7 linked regions of the Homo sapiens genome follow. The protein of the gene in region 7 purifies or fractionates together with the protein of the main gene of each other region. This does not show direct contact. Each region holds a gene or a part of one and is shown on either strand. Other genes may lie near its edges.

The links.
Region 1: the proteins of WDHD1 (region 7) and AKAP12 fractionate together in Homo sapiens (co-fractionation; one large-scale study listed by BioGRID). This does not show direct contact.
Region 2: the proteins of WDHD1 (region 7) and EML4 fractionate together in Homo sapiens (co-fractionation; one large-scale study listed by BioGRID). This does not show direct contact.
Region 3: the proteins of WDHD1 (region 7) and GOLGA3 fractionate together in Homo sapiens (co-fractionation; one large-scale study listed by BioGRID). This does not show direct contact.
Region 4: the proteins of WDHD1 (region 7) and LRRFIP1 fractionate together in Homo sapiens (co-fractionation; one large-scale study listed by BioGRID). This does not show direct contact.
Region 5: the proteins of WDHD1 (region 7) and FNBP1 fractionate together in Homo sapiens (co-fractionation; one large-scale study listed by BioGRID). This does not show direct contact.
Region 6: the proteins of WDHD1 (region 7) and NASP fractionate together in Homo sapiens (co-fractionation; one large-scale study listed by BioGRID). This does not show direct contact.

What each region holds. Positions count from the first base shown.
Region 1 is NC_000006.12:151,347,887-151,351,836, reverse strand, and holds part of AKAP12 (A-kinase anchor protein 12), read right to left. Parts: intron 3,127-3,950; coding exon 1-3,126. UniProt on the Homo sapiens protein: Anchoring protein that mediates the subcellular compartmentation of protein kinase A (PKA) and protein kinase C (PKC).
Region 2 is NC_000002.12:42,301,657-42,305,606, forward strand, and holds part of EML4 (echinoderm microtubule-associated protein-like 4), read left to right. Parts: intron 1-1,447; coding exon 1,448-1,573; intron 1,574-1,658; coding exon 1,659-1,790; intron 1,791-2,827; coding exon 2,828-2,895; intron 2,896-3,950. UniProt on the Homo sapiens protein: Essential for the formation and stability of microtubules (MTs). Required for the organization of the mitotic spindle and for the proper attachment of kinetochores to MTs. Promotes the recruitment of NUDC to the mitotic spindle for mitotic progression.
Region 3 is NC_000012.12:132,825,865-132,830,565, forward strand, and holds the start of GOLGA3 (golgin subfamily A member 3), read right to left. Parts: upstream 3,006-4,701; 5' UTR 2,939-3,005; intron 2,526-2,938; exon of another isoform or gene 2,152-2,525; intron 2,039-2,151; exon of another isoform or gene 1,944-2,038; intron 1,850-1,943; exon of another isoform or gene 1,743-1,849; intron 374-1,742; exon of another isoform or gene 1-373. UniProt on the Homo sapiens protein: Golgi auto-antigen; probably involved in maintaining Golgi structure.
Region 4 is NC_000002.12:237,759,933-237,763,882, reverse strand, and holds part of LRRFIP1 (leucine-rich repeat flightless-interacting protein 1), read right to left. Parts: intron 3,820-3,950; coding exon 3,678-3,819; intron 1,281-3,677; coding exon of another isoform or gene 1-1,280.
Region 5 is NC_000009.12:130,036,322-130,040,271, forward strand, and holds part of FNBP1 (formin-binding protein 1), read right to left. Parts: intron 1-3,950. UniProt on the Homo sapiens protein: May act as a link between RND2 signaling and regulation of the actin cytoskeleton. Required to coordinate membrane tubulation with reorganization of the actin cytoskeleton during the late stage of clathrin-mediated endocytosis.
Region 6 is NC_000001.11:45,590,283-45,594,232, reverse strand, and holds part of NASP (nuclear autoantigenic sperm protein), read right to left. Parts: intron 3,011-3,950; coding exon 2,963-3,010; intron 1-2,962. UniProt on the Homo sapiens protein: Component of the histone chaperone network. Binds and stabilizes histone H3-H4 not bound to chromatin to maintain a soluble reservoir and modulate degradation by chaperone-mediated autophagy.
Region 7 is NC_000014.9:54,960,809-54,964,758, forward strand, and holds part of WDHD1 (WD repeat and HMG-box DNA-binding protein 1), read right to left. Parts: intron 2,365-3,950; coding exon 2,144-2,364; intron 2,046-2,143; coding exon 1,930-2,045; intron 1,744-1,929; coding exon 1,690-1,743; intron 1-1,689. UniProt on the Homo sapiens protein: Core replisome component that acts as a replication initiation factor. Binds directly to the CMG complex and functions as a hub to recruit additional proteins to the replication fork.

The sequences.
Region 1 (3,950 bases), on a different chromosome or scaffold from region 7:
ATTTTACCCCAGCTAAGGTTTCGGCTTGACAAGTGGTTACAAGCTCACTGGACTCTATGCTCTCTGTGACTTGAGGAGCTTTTTCAAAGCTTTCTGGGGTGGTCTGCCCCACCACCTTCCCTTGTGTAAAAGGCTCAGTTTTTGCCTCCTGAGCATCTACTTTCAACACTACATCCGTCTCTTTCTTCAGACCCGACGCTTCAGCCTGCTCTTCTGGTCTTTCTGCCTCTGCTCTCTGCACAGGCTGAAGCACATCTTCTGGCCCACCGGTGCCAGGCAGCTGGGATTCCTCTTTCACTTTTTCTGCCACTGCCTGGAGGACCTCTTGAGTCCGCCTCTCTTGCTCTTCTATGTCAGGTACGCCACCTTCCACCTCCTGCACCGGAGTGGCCTCCTCTGTGGTGTCTGGGGAGTCGGTTAACTGGGAGACTGCTGACACCATTTCTGTGGTCTCTTCAGCAGCAGATGCTTCGGTTCCTTCTTCGGCACCCAATGGCCCTGCAGTTTCTGCAGCTGTCACAGCTTCGGGGGTCAATTCCGCCTCACTAACGACCGTGTCGCCCCGGGCCTCTCTGTTCTCTGGCAGAGGTTCAGTAACCGTGGGGGGTTCTTCTTCTGCAATTACTTCTCTTTCCAATACCTCCTCAGTTAACAGTGCGGCTTCAGCTTCTACTTGTTCAAGAGGTTCTGTCACTGAAGCAGATATCCAAGAAGGAGACCTTTCTTCAATAATGGTAGCTGCCCTCGTCCCGTCAGCGACAGCTGCTGCCATCATATGAACCTGACTCTCGCTGAGCTCCTTGGACACCTCAGTGGCTGCCTTCTGCTCGGGCTGCTCTGCGCTTTTTTGGGCTTGCTGTGCCTCCATTTTCTCCCTTTCTACAGCATCATACTCAGACAGAGGGACCACGGCCGGGACATCAGAGTCATCTTCGTTGGCCCCTGTTGGCCCTGCGTCTTCAACAGGGGCTTGTTCTTGTTTCCCATCTGGCCTTTTCTTCCTTCGTCCAGGAATAAACTTCTTGATTGAGACCCAGGATTCTTCTTTACCGGGTTCAGTGTCTGGAGTGGAATGTTCTACACCAGACCCAGCTATGGAGTCTTCGCTTTTCTCTTCCAGCTTGGACTTTGATTTTTTTCTTGGCGTGACTAACCTTTTAAATGACTCCCAGGTGGAAACGCCCTCCCCTTCGGTAGGGCTTCCAGCTTGCTCCGGGGAGGAACTTCCCTGCCCTGGATCATGTTCTTGGGAACCAGCAAGGATCCCGTCTGTCCCCGTCTCTTTGTCTTTTCCGGCCTCATCAGCTTTCTGGTGGTCTCCTCCCATTGCTTTTGGTCCCCCTTCCTCATCAGAAGAGGACCCTCTCCTTGCTCTTTTCTTGGATGATCCCACACAAATTAAAGCTTCCCAAGATACTGAGGTATCCACCTTGCGCTTTGGTTCTTCCGGCTTTGGCTCTTCCACGCTCCCTTTCATTTCTTCTTGCATTTCAGAGGCTGTGCTCTCGGTGGAAGACAAGGTAGCGCTCTTGACCTTGTCCAGCTCATCTTCTTTATCACTTTCCGAAGGCCGTCTAACACGCTTCTTGGGCGTCACCATCTTTTTGAATGATGCCCAGGGAGTGACACCTTCTCTTTTTTTCTCTCCATCGGAAGTAGCTCCTTCTTCAGCTTCCCCATCCTGCTGCACCTCGGCTAAGCCCTTTTCCAGACACGTGATCTCCTCGGGCTCCTCAGGGGATGAGGCAGAGCTCTCGCCCTTTTGCTCCTCCTGGCTGTCCGGAGAATCGGCTGGAACCTGAGTGTGCTCCCCTGATTCCTCGTCTCCTCCTCCTCTTTTCCCTTTCTGTTTCTTTCCAGAAAGCTTTTTTAAGCCAGTGCTGGTAAAAAGCTTCTTTAGTGGACTTCCCTGCACCTTCATTCTCTCCTGTGATGACAGCATTTCCACCTCACTCACAACGCCTTCGGGGGGTTTGGACAGCACCTTCTCATCAGGACTGAGGTCAGCTCCCTGTGTAGGGTCCTCTCCGGAAACACACGTTTCTTTGAGCTTCACCAGCTCCTTGGCAGGTTCAGCTTCCTGAGGTTCTGCATCCATTTCAACCAATTCTTCAGCTGGCACAGACCCTGCTGTTTCTTCCACCTCCGTTTTCTGCTCTTCGGTTCTCTCCTCCACGGTGCTGACGTGGACTTCGGCCACAACCTCTTCTTGGTGGACTTCTATTTTCTCATCAAACACTTCTGTCGCCAACGGAGCAGGTTTCTCTTCAGAAGGTCCCTGCGAGCCACTGACTTGCTCCTCTGAGGGCAGCTCAACTTTCTCATATTCAGCTGATAACCGGGGCTCGTGGGCACTTTCTGCCGGCTCCTGTGGGTGGGCTTGCTCGGAGGCGGTCAGTTTCTCGGAGGCAACCTCTGCCTTTCCGTCTTCTTCTGTGTCTACTTTTTCTGGCTCTTGTTCCTTTTTCTTCTCTGAAGCTTCCACTTCATCCTCCTTCGGCTTCCTGAAACTGGTCTTTTTGCGCCAGCCGGCCCAACCTTGAGTGAAGAATTTTTTGAAGGTTGATCCTGTTTCACTGGTCACGGGACTAGTCGGAGATTCTGCAGACTTGCTAGGTTCTTTTTCTTGTTTCTCTTCTCCTTCCTCTTTGCATTCCTCCACTGCTTGGCCAGATTCGGCTGGGGGAGAAATTTCTGCGTGGCTTTGCTCACGCTTCAGGGTCTCTTCGGGTTTCTCTGTAGATTGTTTGGGTTCGCTTTCTTTGGATGCTGCTTCTCCAGCCCCAAGGCTGGGGTCCTTGTGGTCGCCAGCCCCTGCTGCTCCCTCCCCTTCATCTTTCTTCACAGTGAGTAGCTGGACAGTGTCAGGCTTCTCTGTCTTATCCTTTTTCACAGTGAATTTAAAGCCAACAAACTTAAACACCTTCTTAAATCCAATATCATTAGCCTGGGACTCAGTGGGTTGTGTTAGCTCTTCTAAATTGCTTTCTGAAGAAGGAATCTGTTCGATTATTTCGGGTGTCTCCTCCTGCCCATCATCTGTGATGTCGTGAACAACCGCTGACTTAGTAGCCATCTCTTTATCGGAGTCTCTTTTGCTCACATCTTCAGAGTCTCTCTGTCCAACTATTAACAAAAAGGGGCGGGGGGGTGGGGAGAAGAGAAAAGGTGATTACAATACAAGAAAATTGTTTTTCTCCGACAGGGCCTCACTCTCTTGCCCCGGCTGGAGGGCAGTGGTGTGGTCTCGGCTCACTGCAGCCTCAACCTCCCAGGCTCAAGGAATCCTCCCACCTCAGCATCCCGAGTAGCTGGGACTACAGGCACATGCCACCATGTCCAGCTAAGTTTTTTATTTTCTGTAGAGATGAGATCTCACTATGTTGTCCAGGCTGCTCTCCAACTGCTGGGCTCAAGTGACCCTCCTGTCTCAGCTTCTCAAAGCAGTGGGATTACAAGTGTGAGCTATAGTGCCTAGCCCAAGAAAATTAACTTTTTTTTTTTTTTTTTTTGAGACAGAGTCTCACTCTGTCGCCCAGGCTGGAGCACAGTGGCACGATCTCGGTTCACTGCAACCTCTGTCCTAGGTTCAAGTGATTCTCCCACCTCAGCCTCCTGATTAGCTGGGATTACAGGCGTCTGTCACCATGCCCAGCTAATTTGTTTTTTTTGTTTGTTTTTTTTGAGATGGAGTCTCACTCTGTCACCCAGGCTGGAGTGCAGAGGCACGATCGTGGCTCACTGCAAGCTCCGCCTCCTGGGTTCACGCCATTCTCCTGTCTCAGCCTCCCGAGTAGGGAGGCTAATTTTTTTTTTTTTGTATTTTTAGTATAGAGACGGGGTTTCACCGTGTTAGCCAGAATGGTCTCGATCTTCTGACCTCGTGATCCACCCACCTCTGCCTCCCAAAGTGCTGGGATTACAGGCGTGAGCCAACACGCCCAGTCAAT
Region 2 (3,950 bases), on a different chromosome or scaffold from region 7:
TTTTCTTCTCTTTTTTGGTGATTTATATTTTGGATTTATGCTTAGTGTTTTTTTTTCTACGTGTAGCATTCTTTCCAGAGAAAATCTTCTGGAAAATCCTCTTAAAAAGAGGATCCTGATAGTACTGCTCTTGGATTTTATTTCCAGGAAGATAGATAATAAAGAGTTGCTTAATCACAACCTTCAGTTCATACTGAAAATGCAACTTCCATCACTGTTTTCTTCACAGATAACTCATATCCTTTGTTAATAAAAGCTATACAATCTAGTTCACTCCTTCCTTTCCCATTTCTAATGTAAATTTGGATTCCTCTTAGAGTTCAGTTATTTGTATTTTTAGGAGTAATTTTAGATCCCACTTGATAAAGTGGGATTTATAATTCCATTATTTCAGAATCATTCTTTGAGATTATTATTAAATGTATTAACACAGCATTCACTGAGATTGTTCCATGTATTGCATTAAATGAAATTGCTCTCCCAAGGAATCCTATTATTATAATACTTTATAATATATTGTTTTTTAATTTACAGAGAACTTCCACATTACATTTTTTTAATTGACACATTGTAATTGAACATATTTATGGGATACAATCTGATGTTTTGATGCAGATATGCTGTATAGTAATCCAGTCAGGGTAGTTAGTATGTCTGTTGCCTCATGCATTTATCATTTTTTTGTGGTGAGAATATTTTTATATTTTGATCCTTACAACAATCAAGAGTGGGTAGGGCATGTATTATTATCCTTATATTACAGAAAATGTTTCTTAGGCTAAGTAACTTACCCAAAGTAATGTAACTAATATAACTAATAAGTAACAAAACCCGACCACATTCTTCATGTGATTTCATGTGAGCTAATAGAACTTACTTCTTTTTTTTTTTTTTTGAGACAGAGTCTTGCTCTGTCGCCCAGGCTGGAATACAGTGGCCCAGTCTTGGCTAACTGCAACCTCTGCCTCCCGGATTCAAGCAATTCTCCTGCCTCAGCCTCCTCAGTAGCTGGGATTATAGGCGCCCGCCACCGCACCTGGCTGATTTTTATATTTTTAGTAGAGACAGGGTTTCACCATGTTGGCCAGGCTGGTCTCGAACTCCTGACCTCAGGTGATCCACCCGCATTGGCCTCCAAATGTGCTGGGATTACAGGTGTGAGCCACCATGCCCAGCCTTTTTTCCCTGTTCTTAACCCTTAACTCCTAAAGTCATATAAAATATACGTTTAAAATTAACTGAAGCAAAGAATGTTGATAATTATTATAACTTCTGTATAATAAAATGTCATTGGACAAATAAATTAGTAGTAGTATGAGATTACCATATCCAAATTTGGGCTTTCGTCATAATTACCTCATAATTGCTTACAGCTATAAATGCAGGCTTCGAGTAGTAATTAATGCATATTAGTATGTATATGGTGACTTTACACTTTTTTTTCTAGGTTCCTGATCAGTATGGCACAATCAGAGCTGTAGCAGAAGGAAAGGCAGATCAATTTTTAGTAGGCACATCACGAAACTTTATTTTACGAGGAACATTTAATGATGGCTTCCAAATAGAAGTACAGGTAAGCTGTGTGATATTAACCGTTAACTGAATATTTTTTATGATATTCTTTGGTTCTTATAACAATGAGTGTCTTTCATTTTCAGGGTCATACAGATGAGCTTTGGGGTCTTGCCACACATCCCTTCAAAGATTTGCTCTTGACATGTGCTCAGGACAGGCAGGTGTGCCTGTGGAACTCAATGGAACACAGGCTGGAATGGACCAGGCTGGTAGATGTGAGTGAAGCAGGATGTGATTATTAACCTCCCCACAGAAACTCCTCACACTGGCAGTTGAGAGCAGCAAAGTAAAAAGGACTAAGTGTTGATTCAAACCAAATGTAAACATATGGTTTAGTAATAGAGGGTGGAGATAAGAGGGTAGCGTTTAGTCTTAAAGTGTGAACATGAACCGATTTTAAAGAAGTAAGTTAGGCCGGGCAAGGTGGCTCACACCTGTAATCCCAGCACTTTGGGAGGCCCAGGCAGGCGGATCACGAGGTCAGGAGATCGAGACCATCCTGGCTAACACGGTGAAGCCCTGTCTCTAGTAAAAATACAAAAAATTAGCCAGGCGTGGTGGTGGGCGCCTGTAGTCCCAGCTACTCGAGAGGCTGAGGCAGGAGAATGGCATGAACCCGGGAGGCGGAGCTTGCAGTGAGCCGAGATCGTGCCAGTGCACTCCAGCCTGGGCAACAGAGCGAGACTCCGTCTCAAAAAATAAAAAATAGAAGAAGTAAGTTAGCAGCGTAAAAGCTCAATTTGTCCATCAGCTTCAGTAGTAAAATCATAAAGATTTCAAATATCTACATAGCATTAATTATTATGGAAACATTTGTGCCTCGGGTGGCATTGCAGTTGGATTCAGTAAGTGCTGCTCACTAACAGGCTCTACTGTCTTCTTTCTGGGTGGTCTCTTACTGTATTTTCTCTCTACCCAACCCAGATATCCACCTTCTCTAGCCCAAGAGGTGTATATAAGTTCTTTGTGGATGCTAAAGAACTGTACCAGTGTTTGTTGTTATTATCCTTATTATTGTTCCACTCCCTAGCCACAAGCTGGTTGTCCCTTTCCCTCACCACTCTGCCAGCATATCCCCTTCATGCTCTGAAATTCTTTTTCCTCTCATATCTGTGTGGTATTTCTCATTAGCTACAAAGTTGATTGAAATGTTATGTTTGAATGAAACAGGTTATTTTCAGAAGTTTTTGCTACTGTCCCCATAGGGAGACTTTCTCATGTACTCCCCAACAGCTGTCTGTCTCTTTTCTAGGAACCAGGACACTGTGCAGATTTTCATCCAAGTGGCACAGTGGTGGCCATAGGAACGCACTCAGGCAGGTAGGGTCTTTAAGTGAACTGAGTAATCTGAAGTGGTGGGATGTTTAAATGCTATTCAGGAATGTTCTCAATCTGATCTGGAGAATTAATCTCTTAAGTGGCACACTAATATGCTTGTTGTTCTTATCCGTTTTGTATATTCATAGAATTCAATTATTTATTGAGCACCTGCCTTTTGCGACATGCTACATGCTATTGTGTGTATTCAGAATACATCAGAAAACAAAACAAAAATTCCTGTCCTGTGAAGCCTACATTTTAGCGTGTATGGGACAGAATAAAAAATAAGCCCTGACGCAGCCAGGCACAGTAATCCCAGCACTTTGGGAGGCCAAGGTGGGCGGATCACCTGAGGTCAGGAGTTCGAAACCAGCCTGGCCAATGTAGCGAAACCCCGTCCCTACTAAAAATACAAAAATTAGCCAGGCGCAGTGGCACACACCTGTAATCCCAGCTATTCTGGAGGCTGAGGCAGGAGAATCAGTTGAACCTGGGAGACAGTTGCAGTGAGCCGAGATTGTGCCACTGCGCTCCAGCATGGGCAACAGAGCAAGACTCCATCTCAAAAAAAATAATAAGGCGAGTTGCAGTAGCCCACGCCAGTAATTCCAGTGCTTTGGGAGGCTGAGGCAGGAAGATTGCTTGAGGCCAGGAGTTTGAGACCAGCCTGGGTGAGACACCATCTCTACAAAAAATAAAAATAATAAACATTATCACGAATTATATTAGAAAATGTTAAGAACCATGTGAGGATAGGGAAAATGATGGGAGATTAAGAGGGAGTGCAGTTGCAAAATGATAGAGTGGTCATTATGGGCTTCATTGAAAAGGAGTTGCAGATTTGACTTTTCCTTTGTGAAATGAGAAGAATCAGAAAATTTCTCTCCTCATCTTTTATGCAGGGGAAGGATTTGAAGCTGATGTAACACCATTGAGCATTTATAAGTTGTTTGTGCTATACCTTTTGCCATCCTGTCTTTTTTAAATGCTACGCAGATATATAATAAAGATATATTTTCTAAAATAATTTAAGACCTGTCTTGCAGACCTTGTAT
Region 3 (4,701 bases), on a different chromosome or scaffold from region 7:
CATTGACAAGAAATGCCCCTTCACTGGTGATGTCTCCATTCGAGGGCGGATCCTCTCTGGCGTGGTGACCAAGATGAAGACGCAGAGGACCACTGTCATCCGCCGAGACTACCTGCACTACATCCGCAAGTACAACCACTTCGAGAAGCACCACAAGAACATGTCTGTACACCTGTTCCCCTGCTTCAGGGACGTCCAGATCGGTGACATCGTCACAGTGGGCGAGTGCCGGCCTTGCCGGCCTCTGAGCAAGACAGTGCACCTCAACGTGCTCCAGGTCACCAAGGCTGCCAGCACCAAGAAGCAGTTCCAGAAGTTCTGAGGCTGGACATCAGCCCGCTCCCCACAATGAAATAAAGTTATTTTCTCATTCTCCAAAAAAAAAAAAAAAAAAGAAACTGGAAGAGCAGCATCACGGCCACGGCCCAGACAGGCACCACCACCTGAACAGAAGGAAGGATGGGATGACCAGCAGGACTGGACTCAGCCATTACAGGTGGAACATGCAGAGGAGAACTGCTGCAGAGGAGAACTGCTGCAGAGGCCCACAGTGACGACGCCTGGGCCTTACACTGACCAAGAAGGAACACAGCCAAAGACGCTCAGGTTCCACCGAGAGGGCACGCCAACATGGTGACAGCCAACCGCACCGAGCTGAGTCCAGTGCAATCACAGATTCTGCTCACTTAATTCCCCTGCTGGTGTCCAAGCAGCCCACCTCTCCAGAACAGAGACCCCATGACGGTGACTGTAAGTCACAAAGACGGCCCCTCTTTACAGGCAGCTCCTCCTGAAGCCGGACCAGAGAGAGAATTCACTAACTGCCTGGAGTTTGGTGACAGTGATACTTCTCCCTGTAGGGCAATAAGCTGGCAGTCTCGGTCGATTCCCAGTCTTGCTTGATTTTTAGTTAAAATTTGGAATGACTCAGTCGTCAGGGCCTCATTACCTCAGACTACTGACAAAAAGCGATCTCCGGGCAGCGAGGAGGAGGAGCAACTGCCAGTGCATCACAGAAAGCTGGTACTACAAACATGGCTCTATTTTAAATAAAGAGGCCAGTCTAATCAGTCTCACTTATGATCACTCGCACTCCTGCGTCTCTAGAGAGAAGAGACAGGACAAAGCTGTCACTTAGAACTGCGAAAGGTACACACAACCCTAGGTTCACAGCTGGGTAACATCAAGGGACTTCATACTGAGAAACCACCACCTCAGGCACCTACAGGACTTTCTGCTTCCCCCACACCTGAATTCTGTATACAAACATTCACGGCTCCATCTACACCACCTCGTTTCACCTGTTCCTATCGGGTATTAGAAACAACAGAGCACAGCCAAAAACCAAACACGATTTCCTCAGGAAAAGAGTACCTGGTGGAGGCCACACTAGTATCCAAAAGTAAACACAGATCTATACACAAAGTGAAAACCAAAAGCAAGCAAGCCTCATGTCACTGCAGAGACGTGAAGGGCAGGCTTGGAAGTCAGGACTCCGGCCTCAGCTCCCGACCCTCCACCACTTACCTGTGAGAGCCTGGGCTAAAGATTTCTTAATCACATTTAGCCTGTTTCCTCACCAGTAAAACAATGAGAAAATGAACGCAAAATTTTGCCAGGATTAAATATAACAAGGCACAGAGTCTGTCCCGTGTCCTCAATAAAATGACAGTAATTATCACGATTTTCCCTTTAGTTGTTGCTTGTCAAAATCGCTAAAAGCCAACTGAAGGCATTCTCACTTGGGAAAGTATGCTACTTCTTAAGGCAATCGGGGGAAAAAAAGCTCCTCTTCAATCTGAGTGATGTCAGATGATTTATTTCCTTCTTGCCATTTAAGGTATACTGCCTGAAAAGATATTAAAGGGTTATAAAGCGCTATGTTGATGTCGTTTAAAAGACAGTTCAAAATAATCCACGACGACGGGTGTGGCTGCTCACACCTGTAACACCAGCACTTTGGGAGGCTGGGGTGGGAGGATCGCTTGAGGCCAGGAGTTCCACACCAGCCTGGGCAATACAGCAACACACCCAGTCTCTTAAAAAAAAAAAAAAAATCCATGAGTCATCTGTAAATGGCTTACACTGGCCCAGTGACAATAAACTCCAACCTCTTAAGAATCCAGCACCTGCCTACACCAACATCCTTACCGCCATCGCTTTCCCCCTTTGCCATTACACTGTGGCCACATCCTCCGCCCTCAGGGTCTTCAAACTTTCTGCCTGAGGCGCGCTTTTCTCACAATTTTGCCTGGCTTGCTTCTCGTCATAGAGGCCTTAGCACGGAAGTCGCCCGCCCCCCAGGCTCCCACTTAGAGTAGCGGACCCCACCCAACCACCGCCCGGTACCCTCTCGCTGGCGACCCTGGGTGTCCCTGTCCTAGGTGGGCTCCGCGGGGGCAGTGACCCAGACCCACAATACCCAGGACCCGCCACACGACTGACATTCGTCGGGTTCATACCCGTGACAACGCCCGGCCCCACTCGCTCTGGCCACCTGGAATGAAGACAAGTCGGCCAGCGACAAAGACAAACAAGGAAGTACACGGACTCCTGAAACCCCGACTTCCCACGAACCACCCGACACCATGTCACGCCTTTCAGCTGCAAAGGGCCAGGCTAAAGCAAGCACTGCCCGAGTGGTGGCAGTGGACAGCTTCGGGACAGGCCGCGCTCGTCGGGCGCAGACAAGCATTCAGGAGGGCTCGCGGGCACCGGCATTTACAGAGCCAGCTCCGCCGCAGCTGAAGGCGGGCGCCCAGGCCCGAGGCCACCGCAGCGAGGCGGGGGTGACTGGAACGGGGCCGTCCCGCCACGCTGCAGGGACGCGCCCAGGCCCCGCCGCCGCCCCTCGAGCCTCCCCCGCCCATGCACTGCGGGAGCGGGAGCGGGAGCGGGAGCCCGAGCCCCGAGGCGCCGCGGCCTCCGAGCCCCTCACCCTGCTGCTCTGGCAGCCCCGGAGGCCGCCCGGCCCGGATGCTCCGGCGGAGACGTGGCCGTGAGAGGGGCGGGGCGAGCGGTGCATCGGCCTCGGGTCCCCGGAAACAGCCTGCACGCGCTACTTTCGTTCCGGAACAGAGAACGTCCTCCTCTTCTTCAAGTGGCCACCCTAGGGCCGGGGACCCTCTGCCCACAGGGTCCGGATCGAGCTCACCTCCGACTGTGATGAGGCCGCCTTCAGAAAGTGACCTTAAGAGTTTGCGGACCTTTCCCTAGTAGAAACGCAACTTCCGGAACTGCAGGACCAACTCTTTCAGGAAGCTGAACCGAGCTTCCGGCGGAAGTGGCGTGGCCGGGGCTCGGCATGGGCGCGGCCGAGCTCGGTGTGGGCGTGACTTCCCCGCCCGCCCTAGTCGGGTCCCCGCCCCAACCCCGCACCTCCACCCGGCCGGCGCCCTTCGCGCTTCAGGTGCCAGATCAAAGGCGACGCTGCTTTGGACCCTATTTGCTTCCCCTTTAAAAAGGGCAAAGCTGGACGGCGCGGGCCGCTGGCCGCTGGGGAACGGCTTTCCACCTTCCCTCATCCGCCAGGCCGCTCTTCCAGCTGTCAGGAAGGAAATGGCCTGGAGGGCGCCTCGGGGTCCTCTGTGATGTTGCGCTCATCTCTGCGGATTTTGGAATACGCTTCAGTCTACGAAGTTTTCTGGGATTTTGATGGGAACTGCTGCAGATCGTTTGGGGAGCACGGGCATCGCTGACTCGGTCCTTCATCTGCGTCCCTGGTGGCCCCTCCATTTATTTCGGTCTTTTGATTTCTTCCACCAGCATTTTGTAATTTCAGCATACAGATTCTGCACCTTTTAAGTTTATAGTATTTCACATCAAACAACTGTAACACTGCGTTTTTGACGTTTTCCACGTGTTCACTGTTGGTCTACACAAATGTGATGAATTCTATGTTGATTTTCTTATCCTGAGACCTCGCTGAACTCATTAGTTTGAGGGTTCATTTGGTGTTTTGCGGTTGTTGTTGTAAAATCCTTGTATTTTTTACATGGGCCATCATGTTATCTGCAAATGCAAATTCTAACACAAAATGATCAGACTGAGGCGTAAAATATACAACTTTTAGAAGAAAACAGAATTTCTCACATCTAGAGCTTGGGGAAGAGTTCTTAGATCTGACCAAAAAAACACAATTCACAAAAGAAGTTGATAGAGTAAACTTCATGAAAAAATTAGAAACTTTTCACCGGATGCGGTGGCTCACGCCTGTAATCCCAACACTTTGGGAGGCCAAGGTGGGCGGATTACCTGAGGTCAGGAGTTTGAGACCAGCCAGGCCAAATGGTGAAACCCATCTCTACTAAAAATATAATAATTAGCCGGGCATGGTGGCATGTGCCTGTAATCCCAGCTACTCAGGAGGCTGGAGGAGAATCGCTTGAATCCAGGAGGCGGAGAGGTTGCAGTGAGCGGAGATCGTGCCACCAGCCTGGGCAACAGAGCAAGACTCCGTCTCAAAAAAAAAAAAAAAAGCCGGGCACAGTGTCTCACGCCTGTAATTCCAGCACCTTGAGAGGCCGAGGCAGGTGGATCACAAGGTCAAGAGATCAAGACTATCCTGGCCAACATGGTGAACCCTGTCTCTATGAAAAATACAAAAAAATTAGCTGGGCGTGGTGGTGTGTGCCTGTAGTCCCAACTACTCGGGAGGCTGAGGCAGGGGGATCACTTGAACCTGGGAGGCAGAGGTTGCAG
Region 4 (3,950 bases), on a different chromosome or scaffold from region 7:
TGCGTCTTCGCTCTTTGGTTCTGCAGGACTGCTTTGAGTGGCACCATCTATTTTAGCATTATCTTTTGCAACACCTTCATCTAATTCTTCACCACCAGCCCTCGGGCCTGATGATTGAACGGTGTCATCCTCAAAATCTAATGTGTCTCCATCAGCTAGTACCTCCTCAGCTGCTGTTTGTACATCATCACCTTCTTGGTCAAGTTTTCCATCCAACTTAATTTTAGGATTCTCCGGACAATCAACATTTTCACTGCTTTCTGCTGCAATTTTCTGTTTTGGATTTTCAGTCACCTCGTTTTGGGCTTCCACTGCTGACTTTCTGTCAGTAGACTTTACCTGCTCTTCTTCCTTAATTTCACTTAAATCTGTGTTCTGATACGTTAACTCTTTTTTAACATCTTTAAGGGTTTCTACGGGTACTGGGGATTTTTTCTTCTTGTTTTTCTTTTTCTTGTTCTTTGTCTTCTTCTGCGATGAGTCCAATGCCTCTCCCTGTTGGTCACTCTTTTCTTCATCGGGCTCTTTCATATCTAAGGGTTCATTTTGAGTGTCTACTGTACTTGGACCTGTCGCTTCCTGACAGTTGCCCTCAGTTCCTGCTGGAGAACCAGGAACTTCTGTCTTGATTGGTTTCTCGTCCCTTAATCCTGTTTCTTCACCCTCTTCTTCGTTGTGATCCCTACCTACTTCTGTACTGTGCGCTGGAACCTCCTTGGGCTCAGCTGCTTCCTGGTTGGTGAATTCTTTCTCTAAACTATGCCCTGTGCTTGTCTCTAACTCTTGGGGGACCTCTACCATACATTTGTCATCATGATAAACTGTGTCATCACTATGCCCTAAAGGACACGAGGCCACTGTGCCTGCCTGCTCTTCAACCTGAGTCACTGCTGCCTCTCCCACATTCTCTGTGTGGTTCCCACCATCTAAGTCACTCCAACAGTTGGATGGCTCAAGGGGAGTTCTGGTCCTGTCATCTGGTGCACCCATGACCTCATTTGACTCAACCTGTACTGTGTTTTCAGGGAGAGAACTGCTCTCAAGAATTTGGCTTTGAACCTGTTCCTCATAGGTAGCACCTGCTAAGGTTCCTAGGAATGGGGCAGTGTCTTCAGAGGATTTCTGGTCCTCGGTATTCTCACCAGCAGGGAATACCTCTATGTCCACACAGTCCTTCACTGTGTCCTCTGTGTGTTGTTCTTTCTCAGTATTGTGCAAGATTTCTCTTTTCCCCACATTCGCCACGATTTCATTTTTCACCTCCACTTCACTGGCTCTTCCTAAAAGACCATTGAGAAAATTGAAGGGACCCCATGATGTGGCGGCCACATAATCTACATTAGAATGTAAACACACGTTCCAAATCCCACCCACCCCTATTCCTAAAGACAGAGTCATCAAAGAGTCATGAGAAACAAGCCTTTGCCAGTTCTGTGCGGCAAAGCAGCAGTTGCATTAGTAAATTTTGGGTCAGTGAGGGCCACTGCCACCACATCAAAGGCCAGAGTGGCTGCTGGTGCCATCTTGTGTGGACAGATTTTTAAAGGTGACGTTAAGTTTCAACAAATAGAAAGAACTCTGGATCAGGCAGCCAAACAATCCACAATGATGGGTTTAGGAACAGACTGAAGGTTCAATTCCCCACTCTCACTTCTCAATGAACAACTTGACAACTTGTACTTTTGCAGCTGTCAAACTGCACTCCATGTCACACAGCCCTAAAAGCAGCTTTCAAGTAATTTTTAAAAAGAATATTCAGTGCACTTTTAGAAATGCAGCCTCAAGGTCAGTCTCAAGGAAGATGCTTTTGAAATAGCTCATATGAAAGGAAATCTATCTTCTGCCACTCAACTATTGTTTTCCTGAGAAAACACCCTGTGTCCATGCCCTGATACCTCTGCTCCATTCCCTAAGGGACTAGGGAGAGAGGACCAGCAGGAGGCAAATGTTCAAGATCAAGATGACCACTAAATTAAATGATAAATTATTCATCGTCTAAAGAACATCAAACTGTTTTGGAATTTTTGGACTCTCCAAACAAAACCCCAGCAGATTAGATATGGTACTATGTTACTGAAAGTCAAAGCTAGATAATTTTATAGCCCAGTGATCTCCATGGTGGGGTGCCCATATCCCAGGGAAAATGGGGGAAATATTAGGAATTCTATTTAGAGTTTTACTCTAAAACTTCTTTGCATATCTTTGCATATATTTTATAACGTACATTTTATATTAATGAAATAGTATACATATGTAGATTTAAAATAAACATACATATTGGATCCTACAATTCTTTGCTGAAGGAATATGTGATCAAAAGTCATTTGAAGGCCACTTTCAAAACTGACATTTCTGGTTCTTACAACATTTCACAATGGTTATCAAAGATTTATAAAATGTGTATTTGAGTAAGAGCAGCGTAATCAGATTCCTAGCTGTTCGGGTAGCTCATATAAAGGTATGATGGAAATTGATTAATTTATCTTTTCTCAACAACGGTATATAGATACTACATACCTATCTAGAGACGGAATCTTGCTAGGTTGCCAGGCTGGCCTGGAATTCCTGGTCTTAAGTGATCCTCCAGCCTTGGCCACCCGCAGCGCTGGGATTAGAAGTGTGAGCCACTGCACTAGGCCACAACTTTTTTTACACAATTGAAAAGAGCTGTGTTTCTTTAATAGTCATAAAGATAATGAATGAGGTACCTCCCTGGAATGCGAGGCCTGAGAAGATGGGGCCTGGAGGTGTCTACATTTCCATAAATAAAAAGAAATAAGATGAAAGCTTCTACATTAAAATGAAAAGTCACGGACCCTGACCTTATTCCAGCCTCTTTGTAAAACACTGGAACGCAGAGGGTGACCAGTGACAGATGAGGCCTCACTTGCACGCTGCAACTTCAGGCTGCACGCCAGAATCTGAAGGTTTCTCCCAAAGCCAACTCTTATGACAAATTATGACAAATCAGATCATTGAAAATGGTATAAAATATTCCTCTGATCTACTGGATTCCCCAGTTTTATATTCTTTCAGAAGCAAACACGTGGCATACAAAGGAGGATCCCCTCTGACAAAGGTGGGCATACTCAGACTCTCAGCACCGCCACACCCACTACCACGGCCGCCTGCCCACCTCGAGCGGTGGCTTGAAAAAGGCAACACAGACGGACCTGCTGTCCACAGGCACCCCGTACCCTCAAAGCGCTGAATGCTGCCCAGGATGTCGATGTTGGCTTGCAAATATGGCCAACTGACTTGACGGCCTCAACCATTCTGATCTTTTGATAATTCTGTCATAGAATCGGTTTAAAAAGCCACACTTTATAGGTACAGATATATATGTGTCTGAGGAAAACCAAATAGTACTCTCCACATTGTTACTTAATTTTGAGACTGTTTTCCTTTTGCCTTCACAGTCTTGCTTGGTAGCTTTGAGCAGCAAAAGAAAAGGTTCACTTGAGCCATTGATGGTGCACTACACAGAGATGCATGCCAGACAACACGTGGGTGACCACACCGGGTGGGCAAGGAAATTACCATGAAGTGATGAAACAAATGGCATGCTGGTGACTGTTAACCCATCAGCGACGGTGGCTCCAACCCCAGCAGTGCATGGAGGGTGAACCAATGCTGAGTGGAAAGGTGTGAGGAGCCGAAGGAAAGCAAATACTTACCTAGGGTCCCATCCCCTGTCGACTTGAGGGCATTTAACTCTTCTTTTGTCATCTTGGTAGGACCTTGGTATCCAACATTATTGAGGGTGTCGGAAGTCTCTCCATTGGTAGCTATTTCTGAATTTAGGATTATTCCATGTTTCTGGGAACAAAAATAGGCTCATCGTAATATTTACTCAGTGATATTAGGTTAAACTCTGTTTTAATACAATAATAAAAAAGAAAACCATTTTTTCCTGAAGTACAGGGTAACTCCACAGAGACAAGAGAAAT
Region 5 (3,950 bases), on a different chromosome or scaffold from region 7:
AGTCCTTCAAAGAAGCACTTTCCATGTCTCACCAATGTAAAGCATGAGTTGTAATGTGTTCACATAGTAAGTATAGACACTTATAAAACTCTTTTATGTGCTTAAAGTACAGTTTTGCCTACCAAAATGGCAATTTACACAAATTTTCAGGATTCTGTCTAATGTACAAAGTGAGGGCAACAAAACTGATATCTAAATATCAACTGCAAAATCTCCAGGCCTCCCACGGTTTGTTTTCTTTTAATATCCACTAAACAGAAAAGACATGTGCAAAATTTGTTCTCATGGAGAAGTAAGGATGGCAAAACTAAGTTGATTTTGTTTCTCTTCTGAAGCAGTTCTGCCCTACCCACCATGGTTCAGGGAGTATTATCTCCCCTGTTGGTCTTGCCATGTTCATCCCAAACAGAAATCTCTGAAGGGTTAAGAAAAAGGAGCAGTAGGCCGGGCGCAGTGGCTCACGCCTGTAATCCCAACACTTTGGGAGGCCGAGGCAGGCGGATCACAAGGTCAGGAGATCGAGACCATCCTGGCTAACAAGGTGAAACCCCATCTCTACTAAAAATACAAAAAATTAGCCGGGCGCGGTGGCAGGCGCCTGTAGTCCCAGCTACTCGGGAGGCTGAGGCGGGAGAATGGTGTGAACCTGGGAGGCCGAGCTTGCAGTGAGCCGAAATCACGCCACTGCACTCCAGCCTGGGCAACCCAGCGAGACTCCATCTCAAAAAAAAAAAAAGAAAAAGGAGCAGTAGAGGCCAGGCATGGTGGCTCACACCTGTAATCCCAGCACTTTGGAAGGCAGAGGCAGGCAGATCACTTGAGGTCAGGAGTTTGAGACCAGCCTGGTCAACGTGGTGAAACCCCATCTCTAGTATGAAAAATACAAAAATTGGCAGGGCATGGTGGTGGGGGCCTGCAGCTACTCAGGAGGCTGAGGCATGAGAATCACTTGAACCTGGGAGGCAGAAGTTGCAGTGAGCTGAGATCGCGCCACTGCACGCCAGCCTGGGTGACTGAGCAAAACTCCATCTCGAAAAAGAAAAAAGAAAAAAGAGCAGTAGAAGAGCTAGGGACGATTGTTAATAGGGTTCTCCAATTTAGCATTCAAGGGCAGTAAGAAGAGGTAATAATTATCCAATACCTGGAACTGTTAATAATTTGTTACTTTAAGATTAAAAAACTAGTTTAAAATTTCGACACACTAGGGAAAAAAATTCAACACACTATAAAGTGTTCTTATATAAAGATATGTACACATATCATGCCTAAGTAGAATGAACAACAGAGAAGGGATAATTTTTCAAACCCTACTTTAAAGGCAAAAAAGGTACTTAGACTGTGTGTATTTGGGGGCAGAAAGGATATGGAAAATCTCTGTACCTTCTCAATTTTGCTATGAACCGAAACTGCTCTAAAAAATAGTCTATTTTCCAAAAAGATACCTAAAATTATATATATATTTTACAACTGCCGAAGTGCAGAAAGGTGTTATAATTATCTTCCCATTATTTTTAAAAAGCAAATGTTAAAACAAAAGGAAAAAAAGGGATTTATTCATTTATCCAATAAATATTTATTGAACTCCTACACAGAGTCAGGCATTGTTCCCAGTACAGTTGGTAGACAATCCTCAAACGGCTGCCTCTTGAAAGTGCACACCACGATCAGGGTCAACATATTCAACAGATGAATGTATATTATATGCCTGGCATGGTTCTAAAAATCACAGGTAAAAAAAATTACATACAGTCGGCCGGGCGCGGTGGCTCACGCCTGTAATCCCAGCACTTTGGGAGGCCGACGTGGGCAGATCACGAGGTCAGGAAATCGAGACCATCCTGGCTAACACAGTGAAACCCTGTCTCTACTAAAAATACAAAAAAATTAGCCGGGCGTGGTGGCGGGCGCCTGTAGTCCCAGCTACTCCGGAGGCTGAGGCTGGAGAATGGCGTCAACCCGGGAGGCGGAGCTTGCAGTGAGCAGAGATCGTGCGACCCACTGCACTCCAGCCTGGGCGACAGAGTGAGACTCCGTCTCAAAAAAAAAAAAAAAAGACATACAATCAACACAGGTGGCTCTTTTTTTTTTTTTTTTTTGAGACAGAGTCGCTCTGTCGCCCAGGGCGGAGTGCAATGGCGCCATCTCGGCTCACTGCAACCTCCGCCTCCCGGGTTCAAGCGATTCTCCGCCTCAGCCTCCCGAGTAGCTGGGATTACCTGCGTGGACCACCACGCCCGGCTAATTTTTGTATTTTTAGTAGAGATGGGGTTTCACCATCTTGGTCCGGCTGGTCTCAAACTCCTGATGTCGTGATCTGCCCGCCTTGGCCTCCCAAAGTTCTGGGATTACAGGCGTCAGCCACCCACCGCGCCCAGCCCACATGTGGCTTCTTACTATGCTAACCAATATGCATTATTCAGGTTTCTCTGTTCTCTTTCTTGTACATACTTCATTTCTCATTAGCACCAGAGCAAATAAATAAAGACAGAGAGGATACTAGGAGGCAGCAAAACCAGGTTCTGTCACTGAATAATTTGTTAGCTGCAAAGAGAATAATTACGAGGAAGGCTTAATTTTCCAATGGATTTATTCATACTTCACACTAATAAGCAAGCTAATAAAAAGCTGAACTAACACTTCAGTAACCTGTCACTTCCCTCAGTAAGTAGGCAAGAAAAAAAAAACATTCAAATGTAAGCAACTCTTGCTTTGCCATTTCTCCAACAACCAGCCACAACTTCAACAAGTCAGTGAACATATTTACCTTACTAACACTGCCTTTTTAACAAGTCTTGAGTAAATGTATTTTGGTTAATTTTACATACAAACATTTTTCTTTTGACTCTGATGTTACAAGCTAGAGGTAAAACCTACTTTCTATGCTTCCACGTAGATATCTTTCAATGTATATAATGTAACTTACAACAGATTCAGACTGGTGTCTTGTGCACACCATAGTTGTTCAATAAAAATTTTGAAAATTGATTAAAAGGCAATGTTATGAAGAGCTATGTTATGAAGAGTTGTAAACTATTTTATTAGAACCCAATCACTTCAAAATGGCCATGTAAGCCTGGGCGAGGTAGCTCGCGCCTGTAATCCCAGCACTTTGGGAGGCCGAGGCGGGCAGATCACTTGAGGTCAGGAGTTCGAGACCAGCCTGGCCAACATGGTGAAACCCCATCTCTACTAAAAATAGAAAAAATTAGCCAGGTGTGATAATGCACACCTGTAGTCCCAGCTACTCAGGAGGCTAAGGCAAGAGAATCACTAGAACCTGGGAAGTGAAAGTTGCAGTGAGCCAAGATCGTGACAGTGCACTCCAGCCTGGGCAACAAGAGCGAAGCTTTGTCTCAAAAAAAAAAAAAAAAAGAAAGTTTATTTCTATGGAGGGGTTAAAGAAAAAGTAAAAAAGAAAGAGGAAGAGAAAGGTTTTACTCCCTCTACAAAGCAGGATGTGGCTTAGGAGCAGGTCTTCAGTGTAAAATGCACATTAGAAACCTGTAGTTTCTAAAAGCCTATATTGATTTTAACCTGAAGTCCTAAAATGTATGTAAAATCTGATAGTATTTGTGAAGGTCCCTGAAAGCTGCAACCACCTGTTACAAATAATTCATGGCCACCCAAACCATAGCTCTTTCTCCATCTAGAAGAATAATTCTGCCAAGTTTGGCTTGAGCGCCCCATCATTATCTCATTATACATGTGCATGATTCCAAAGCCACCATTCAAGGAAAACCCTTAATCACTGCCCTCCGCTGGGCTACCCAATGTACCGCACATCACCAAGTCTCTGACCACCGGAGAAACTGGGGTTTACTTTTCATAATCCTTCATTATTCTAGTTTTTTTAAATCTCAAAAGCTACTAAGCCTTATACATCTTTGCATTTCACCTGAAAACTTAGATTTTGCATTTCTCTTAGTAGCACAATCATGTGTTCATTCCTT
Region 6 (3,950 bases), on a different chromosome or scaffold from region 7:
CTCAGCCTCCCAAGTAGCTGGAATTACAGGCGCTAGCCACCACGACCGGCTAATTTTTGTATCTTTTTTAGTAGAGACGGGGTTTCACCATGTTGGCCAGGCTGATCTTGAACTCCTGACCTCAGGTGATTCACCCACCTCAGCCTCCCAAAGTGCGTGAGCCACCGCGCCTAGCCCTATTTTGTTTCTTTCCTTTTTTTTTTGGAGACAGGGTCTCACTCTGTCACCCAGACTAGAGTGCAGTGGCAGGATCATAGCTCACCACCACCTCGACTTCCTGGGCTTCCGCAATCCTCCTACCTCAGCCTCCCCAGTATCTGGGACCACACGCAAGTGCCACAACGAACAGTTAATTAAAAAAAAAATTTTTTTTTTTTGTACAGATGGCGTCTTGCTATGTTGCCCAGGCTGGTCTCGAACTCCTGGGGTCATGTGATCCTCTCAGAGATGGAGGTCTTGCTTGGCCTCCCAAAGTGTTGGGATTACTGGTGTAAGCTACCACACCCAGCCAAGCAGTATTTCATAAGACTTATTTTAACCCTTTTCCCGTTTAAGAGAAAAAAAAAAAAGTACAGCTCATTGCCAGCACTCATTTAATTTTACATAAACATGTTCTTTGAAGCTGAAGCAAATCTGACTTTCAGCATGAAAATAAAAATATAAAACTGTTCTCGGAGTTTTTTTTTTTTTTTTTTTTGGGGGGGGACAGTCTCACTCTGTCACCCAGGCTGGAGTGCAGTGGCACAATCTTGGCTCAATGCAACCTCCACCTCCCAGGTTCAAGTGATTCTCTTGCCTCAGCCTCCCGAGTAGCTGGGATTATAGGCGCCCGCCACCACGCTCAACTAATTTTTGTATTTTTAGTAGAGAGAGGGTTTCACCATGTTGGCCAGGCTGGTCTTGAACTCCTGACCTCAAGTGATCAGCCCACTTCAGTCTCCCAAAGTGCTGGGATTACAGACATGAGCCACCTGCCTGGCCGGAGTTATTTCTAAACACAACTAATATCAGAATCGCCTATTTCATAAAAATTGGATTCATCAAATGAATCTTTGGCCAACAACCATTTGAGAATGATGTTAACATCATACATAGGAATGCTACGTTTTCTAGGATTTGACATTTACAGCAATCGAGAATTACCCTATTTTGTAAATGGAAATAACCATTACTAAAAACAGAGTGCTATAAACAGAATGATGTCTTTTTATCCAAAATCTATATATTAGAGTGATGTGAAAATAATAATAAAGGAGAGCTATTTCATGGCAGTTTTCACTGGGTAAATGCAGCAGCCCCAAGCACCACCAGCAAGTATTCTCAGGGCAAATGGGAAAAGGGTTAAATAACCAAGATGACAACAGGATTTCAAACATGAAAAACATAAAACCCTATGGACGCTTAAAAAATGTATTTGTGGCCGGGTGTGGTGGCTCACGCCTGTAATCCCAGCACTCTGGGAGGCCAAGACGGGCAGATCGCCCGAGGTCAGGAGTTCGAGACCAGCCTGACCAACATGGCGAAACCCTGTCTCTACTAAAAATACAAAAATTAGCCGGGCATGGTGGTGGGTGCCTGTAATCCCAACTACTTGGGAGGCTGAGGCAGGAGAATCGCTTGAACCCGGGAGGCAGAGGTTGCAGTGAGCCAAGATCATGCCATTGCACTCCAGCCTGGGTGACAGAGTGAGACTCCATCTCAAAAAACAAACAAACAAAATATTTGTAAGATATTCTAACAGTAATAATTCTCAATCTTATCAGAAAGCTTTTCCATAACACATGAACCCAAATTTTATCTCAAGCTCAACAAATAAAATCAGCTGGGCATGGTAGATCAGGCTGGTAATCCCAACACTTAGGGAAGCCAAGGCAGGGGGATTGCTTGAGCCCAGGTTGGAGACCACCCTGGCCAACAAAGCAAGACTCCGCTTCGAAAAATATAATTCGGGTGGGCACAGTGGCTCACGCCTGTAATCCCAACACTTTGGGAGGCCAAGGCGGGCAGATCACCTGAGGTCGGGAGTTCAAGACCAACCTGGCCAACATGGTGAAACCCCATCTCTACTAAAAATAGAAAAATTAGCTGGGTGTAGTGGCACCCGCCTGTAATCCCAGCTACTTGTGAGACTGAGGCAGAATTGCTTGAACCCAGGAGGCAGATGTTGCAGTGAGCCAAGATTGCGCCACTGCACTCCAGCCTGGGCGACAAGAGTGAAACTCAGTCTAAAAAATAAATAAAATAATTAGCCAGATGTGGTGGTGCATGCCTACAGTCCCAGCTACTCAGGAGGCTGAGGCAGAAGAATCCCTTTAGCCCGGGAGTTCGAGGTGGTGGTGAGCTATGATAACATCACTGAACTCCAGCTTGGGCAACAGAGCAAGACCCTGTCTCTAAAAAATGAAACAAGAAATCTCTAGGGATGTAACCTACCATCTACCTTTTGGGTAAGCTTTTTAGTTAATTATTATGCCCACCTCTGATTAAGAAACATAGTCACTACGGGTGTAGATCTGAGATAAAGAAAAACAAAAAACCATAGCCATATCAAGATGGAAACGTTACAGGGGGAGGAGGTGAGACGGGCCTGGTAGTTCACACCTATAATCCTACACTTTGAAAGGCTTAGGCAGGGAGGAATGCTTGAGGCTAGGAGTTTGAGACCAGCCTTGGCAACATAGCAAGACCCCATCTCTCCAAAAAATTTAAAAATGAGCGAAGTGTAGTGGCATGTGCCTATAGTCCTAGCTACTCAGGAGGTTGAAGTGGGAAGATTGCTTGAGCCCAGGAGTTCAAGGTTGTAGTGAGCCCTGATTGCACACTGCACTTCGGCCTGAGCAACAAAGCGACACCTTGCCTCTATCAAAAATAAATTAATTAAAAAATAAAAATAACTTTAAAGTTATATTGCTCTTAGTTTATGTTTCTGATACGAATCTAACTACCATGTAAATAATCTTACCTCTCCACTTTATCTGCAGATGTAGAAGGAGCAGGAACATCTTCAATTCTGTAATAAAAAATTAAAGGGGAAAAAATGTAAAACTGGAGGCAATTATTAAGCCTGAAAATAAAATAAATTCAGAAAAATATAAAGGAATAAAAGAGCTGTCATTTATTAAATACTCAAGTATTATTTACTTACTTACATTATCAAATTTAATTCATTTAATTCTTACTCACTCAAATATCCAGGGCTGAAAATAAGTGGCAACTTCACAGCTATAACCACAGGGATGAGGAACAACTTAAAGGGCAGTGCTTTCAGCTACAGGTTGTAAGCTATCTGGGCCATTTGCCTAGAATCTTGAAATGGTCTTGGATCCTTATCTACAAACTCCGTCACAGCCAGTCATGTATATCGAATAGTTTTATTAAGAGGTCATTCTGACCAAATGGTCTAGCACAGAGCCTCTCAAACTACCTGTGGTTAAGGGACTAGGTCTTTTATTTCCCTATATAACCTTCTATAACACACAGGTTTTTTTAAATACAATGTCAGGGAGATATCACAGCGAGACTCCGTCTCAAAAAAAAAAAAAAAAAAAAAGTTACACTATGACTGCAATATAAGACTCTGAATTGAATACCATTAAAAGCAAGGAACCAGTAAAAACACTATTAAGTATCATTGTAAAGCATTTATCAGTGATAAATTTCTTTTCTTTTTTTTTTTTTTTTTTGAGACAGAGTCTTGCTCTGTCGCCCAGGCTGGAGTGCCCTGGCACGATCTCCGGCTCACTGCAAGCTCCGCCTCCCGGGTTCACGCCATTCTCCTGCCTCAGCCTGGGCCTGGTGCCAGGCCGGTGCCTGTGCACCGGCCACCATGCCCGGCTAATTTTTTTGTATTTTTAGTAGAGACAGGGTTTCACCGTGTTAGCCAGGATGGTCTCGTCTCCTGACCTCGTGATCCACCTGCCTCGGCCTCCCAAAGTGCTGGGAATACAGGC
Region 7 (3,950 bases):
TTATTTTTTGATACAGGGTCTTGCTCTGTCACCCAGGCTGGAGTGCAGTGGTGCAACCATAGCCTACTGCACCCTCGAACTCCTGGGCTCAAGATATCCTCCTGTCCCAGCCTCCCAAATACCTGGGACTACCGGTGTGTACTACCATGCCTGGCTAATATTTTTATTATTTACTTTTTGTAGAGATAGGGTTTCATTGTTTCCAAGGCTGGTCTCAAACGTCTGGTCTCAAGTGATCCTTCCACCTTGGCCTCTCAAAATGCTGAGGTTACAGACATGAGCCATCACACCTGGCCAGTAGTCTATTATCTGTTCTTCTTCAGCACAGTGTGCCATGCTATACCTCTGCTTAAAACCTACAACAGTCTCTCAGTGACCTTAGAATAAAGAGCAAAATCCTGACCGGGTGTGGTGGCTCACACCTGCAGGTCCAACAACTTTGGGATGTGGAGGTGAGGAAATTGCTTGAGTTTGAGACCAGCCTGGACAACAGAGTGACACCCCATCTCTATTAAAAAAAATAAAATAAAATAAAAAAAAGACCAAAATCCTTAATATGGCCTACACAGATCTGCATGACTTGGCTCCTGCCCATCACTCCGAAACCCTTCAGCACCACTTTCTCTTTGCTCTCTGAGCTTTTCACACCACCCTTTTGCAGCCTTCAGTTCACACATACTGTTCCTTAAGCCCAAATGCTTCTCTTCTGCTCCTGTTCCCATGCACCTTTGCCTTGCTGACTGTTATTCATCCTTCAGGTCTCTGCTGTAAACACTCCATGAGGCCTGCCTTGAAGTCCCTACCCATCCTCCACCACTGGCTAGATGACAGCTATGTGTCATACGCTCTTTTCATATTCTACATGTTTTTTAAGTTAATTTTTTTAAATCAAAGTAACATATGTCCACAGTTTAAAAAGTCAAATGGTACTATAAGGTTTATGCTCCCCACCAAAAAAGGGCCAGCAGTGCCTTACTTCAACCTTCTCTTATCCCCCAGGCCCACTCCCTGTACGCAACCATTTTCAACTCCTTTTTTTTTTTTTTGAGATGGAGTCTCACTCCATTGCCCAGGCTGGAGTGCAATGGCACGATCTCGGCTCACTGCTACCTCCACCTCCTGAGTTCAAGTGATTCTCCTGCTTCAGCCTCCCGAGTAGCTGGGATTACAGGCACATACCACCACCCTCAGCTAATTTTTGTATTTTTAGTAGAGATGGGGTTTCACCGTGTTGGCCAGGCTAGTCTAGAACTCCTGACCTCGTTATCCGCCCACTCCGGCCTCCCAAAGTGCTGGGATTACAGGCGTGAGCCACTGCGCCCAGCCTTCAATTCCTTTTAACTGTTTCTCCAGTATCCTGCATGCTTCCTCAGTGATACCCAGATCTGTCTTCAACATCTGTCTTCTCAGCTGGGCTAAAATAGCATTAAAACAGAGATCAACCACACATGTCTGTTTGACTTCTGTATCCACCATTAAGTAAAATGCCTGACACTCAATAGGCATTTTATAAACATCTGTTAAATGACCATAGCTTCACAAACAACATCTGAGATTAAAAAAACAAAAACATAAACACACACACACCAAAAGTGGCCTTAAGAGTTAAGGTGTATTTGCGTAGATGTGTCACTTTGCAGATGACTTGCAAAATTTCCTTGATATTACAAATTTATAAATATTTCTCACCTGACTTAGCTGAAACATCAGAGGAATTTGTACTTTTGGAAAACGAGTTCTGTCCTACAGATTAAAATAAAGCAATATAATGTAAATGGGGAAAATATAGTCATCCTCAATATACAACAACCAGATAGCAAAGAGGTCTGAAAAAAAGTATGAGTATTCAATTTCCCTCAGTTAAGCAAAATGGGAAAAGCCACATCCATGATAGTTCTCATGATTTATGGGCTTGAAAATGTATCTCACCAGGCTTATGTATTTCTGGTTTTTCTTCATCATCAGCTTCTCCACTGTCCTCAGCATCTTCTTCAACTTGATTTCTGAACCTTGGTTGGCTCCACTCTGTAGCAGTATTGCTGTAACTAAGAGAAAATAATATTATTCAATAAAGAGCTATGCAAAGACCAACTTAACATTCAAGACAGTAAAGGAAAATTCAAACAACTAAATTATTTCTTACCCAGCATTCAGCTTTTTTCTGAAATCTTCTTCTTCTTCTTCCTCTTCCACCTGGGTTGCTGTCAATTCGGCTGCCTTCTCTACAGCCAGTTCACTTAGTTTTTGAGCCAGTATTAATTTCCGAGAGCGAGAAGCATATTTAATGGCTAAATTCACAGCATTTTGAGTCATTAGATCAGCAAGTTCCACACAACGGAATTCTCGCTCCAGTTTACAAGAAAGCTAATCCAAAAAGGGGGGGGGGGGGGAGATCAAATAACATCAAGTAAAACTTTTTAAAGATACTGACACTACTAGTAAAACTGAGACAATAGTTTTCTAGCTACTCTATCTCCCTAATTCTAAGATGCACATTTTTACAAGTTTTAACATCTCTGAAATTGGAATTACAATTAATTACAATTAATGGTGGGTCAGTTTGGCAGCATTTTTATGTCTCCATGGCTTAAATGAATAAAGTAATGGTGCACTATGCAATAAACAGTGGCTTAGATTTGATGAAATATTACATACCACTTTAATCTACTAATTGCAAGAAAATTAAGAAATTTGTTTAAAAAATTCAAGGGGGAGGCTGGGCACGGTGGCTCACGCCTGTAATACCAGTGCTTTGGGAGGCCCAGATGGGTGGATCATGAGGTGAGGAGTTCGAGATCAGCCTGGCCAATATGGCAAAACCCCGTCTCTACTAAAAACACAATTAGCCAGGCGTGGTGGCGTGCGCCTGTAATCCCAGCTACTCGGGAAGCTGAGGCAGGAGAATCGCTTGAACCCGGGAGGTGGAGGTTGCAGTGAGCCAAGATTGCACCACTGCACTCCAGCCTGGGCGAGAAAGCGAGACTCTGTCTCAAAAAAAAAAAAAAAAAAAAAAATCAAGGGGGCCAGGTGTGCTGGCTCACACCTGTAATCCTAGCACTTTGGAAGGCCAAGGCAGAGGGACTGCTAGAGGCCAGGAGTTTGAGACTAACCTGGGCAACACAGTGAGACCCTATAACTACAAAAAATAAATTAGCTGGGCGTGGTGGCATGCACCTGCAGTCTTATCTACTCAGGAGCCTGAGACAGGAGGTTCACTAGAGCCCAGGAGGTTGAGGCTGCAGTGAGTTACAATCTTGCCACTGTACTCTAGCCTGGGTAACAGAGTGAGACCCTTTCTCTAAAAAATACAAAAAAGAAAAACAACAAACTGAGAAAAGTTGGTATTTTGAAGATTACTAAGGGTCTCCTAATTCATAGTGTATTAGAACTATTTTCTTACTTAGATATTCCATGTCTGATCCATCAGCACAAAAGCTTTAGATATTCACCTGGATGCCCTTTTCAAGATTTTTAGTATCATTTATCTATAATCAGTACTTCTTAATCGGGATGGTACACTGCCTCAGGGGGCATTTAGAAATAAAAAGGAAGCCGGGCGCAGTGGCTCACACCTGTAATCCTAGCACTTTGGGAGACTGAGACAGGTGGATCACAAGGTCAGGAGATCGAGACCATACTGGCTAACACGGTGAAACACAGTCTCTATTAAAAATACAAAAAATTAGCTGGTGTGGTGGCAGACAACTGTAGTCCCAGCTACTCGGGAGGCTGAGGCAGGAGAATGGCGTGAACCTGGGAGGCGGAGCTTGCAGTGAGCAGAGATCGCGCCACTGCACTCCAGCCTGGGCAACAGAGCGAGACTTCGTTTCAAAAAAAAAAAAAGAAATAAAAAGGAATAGTCTGGTTTCCACAGTGACTATTCTGAACTAAAGGCATTTGCCCGGGGGTCAGGAATGCTAAAGAAGAACTCAACAATCCCCTTGAACTCC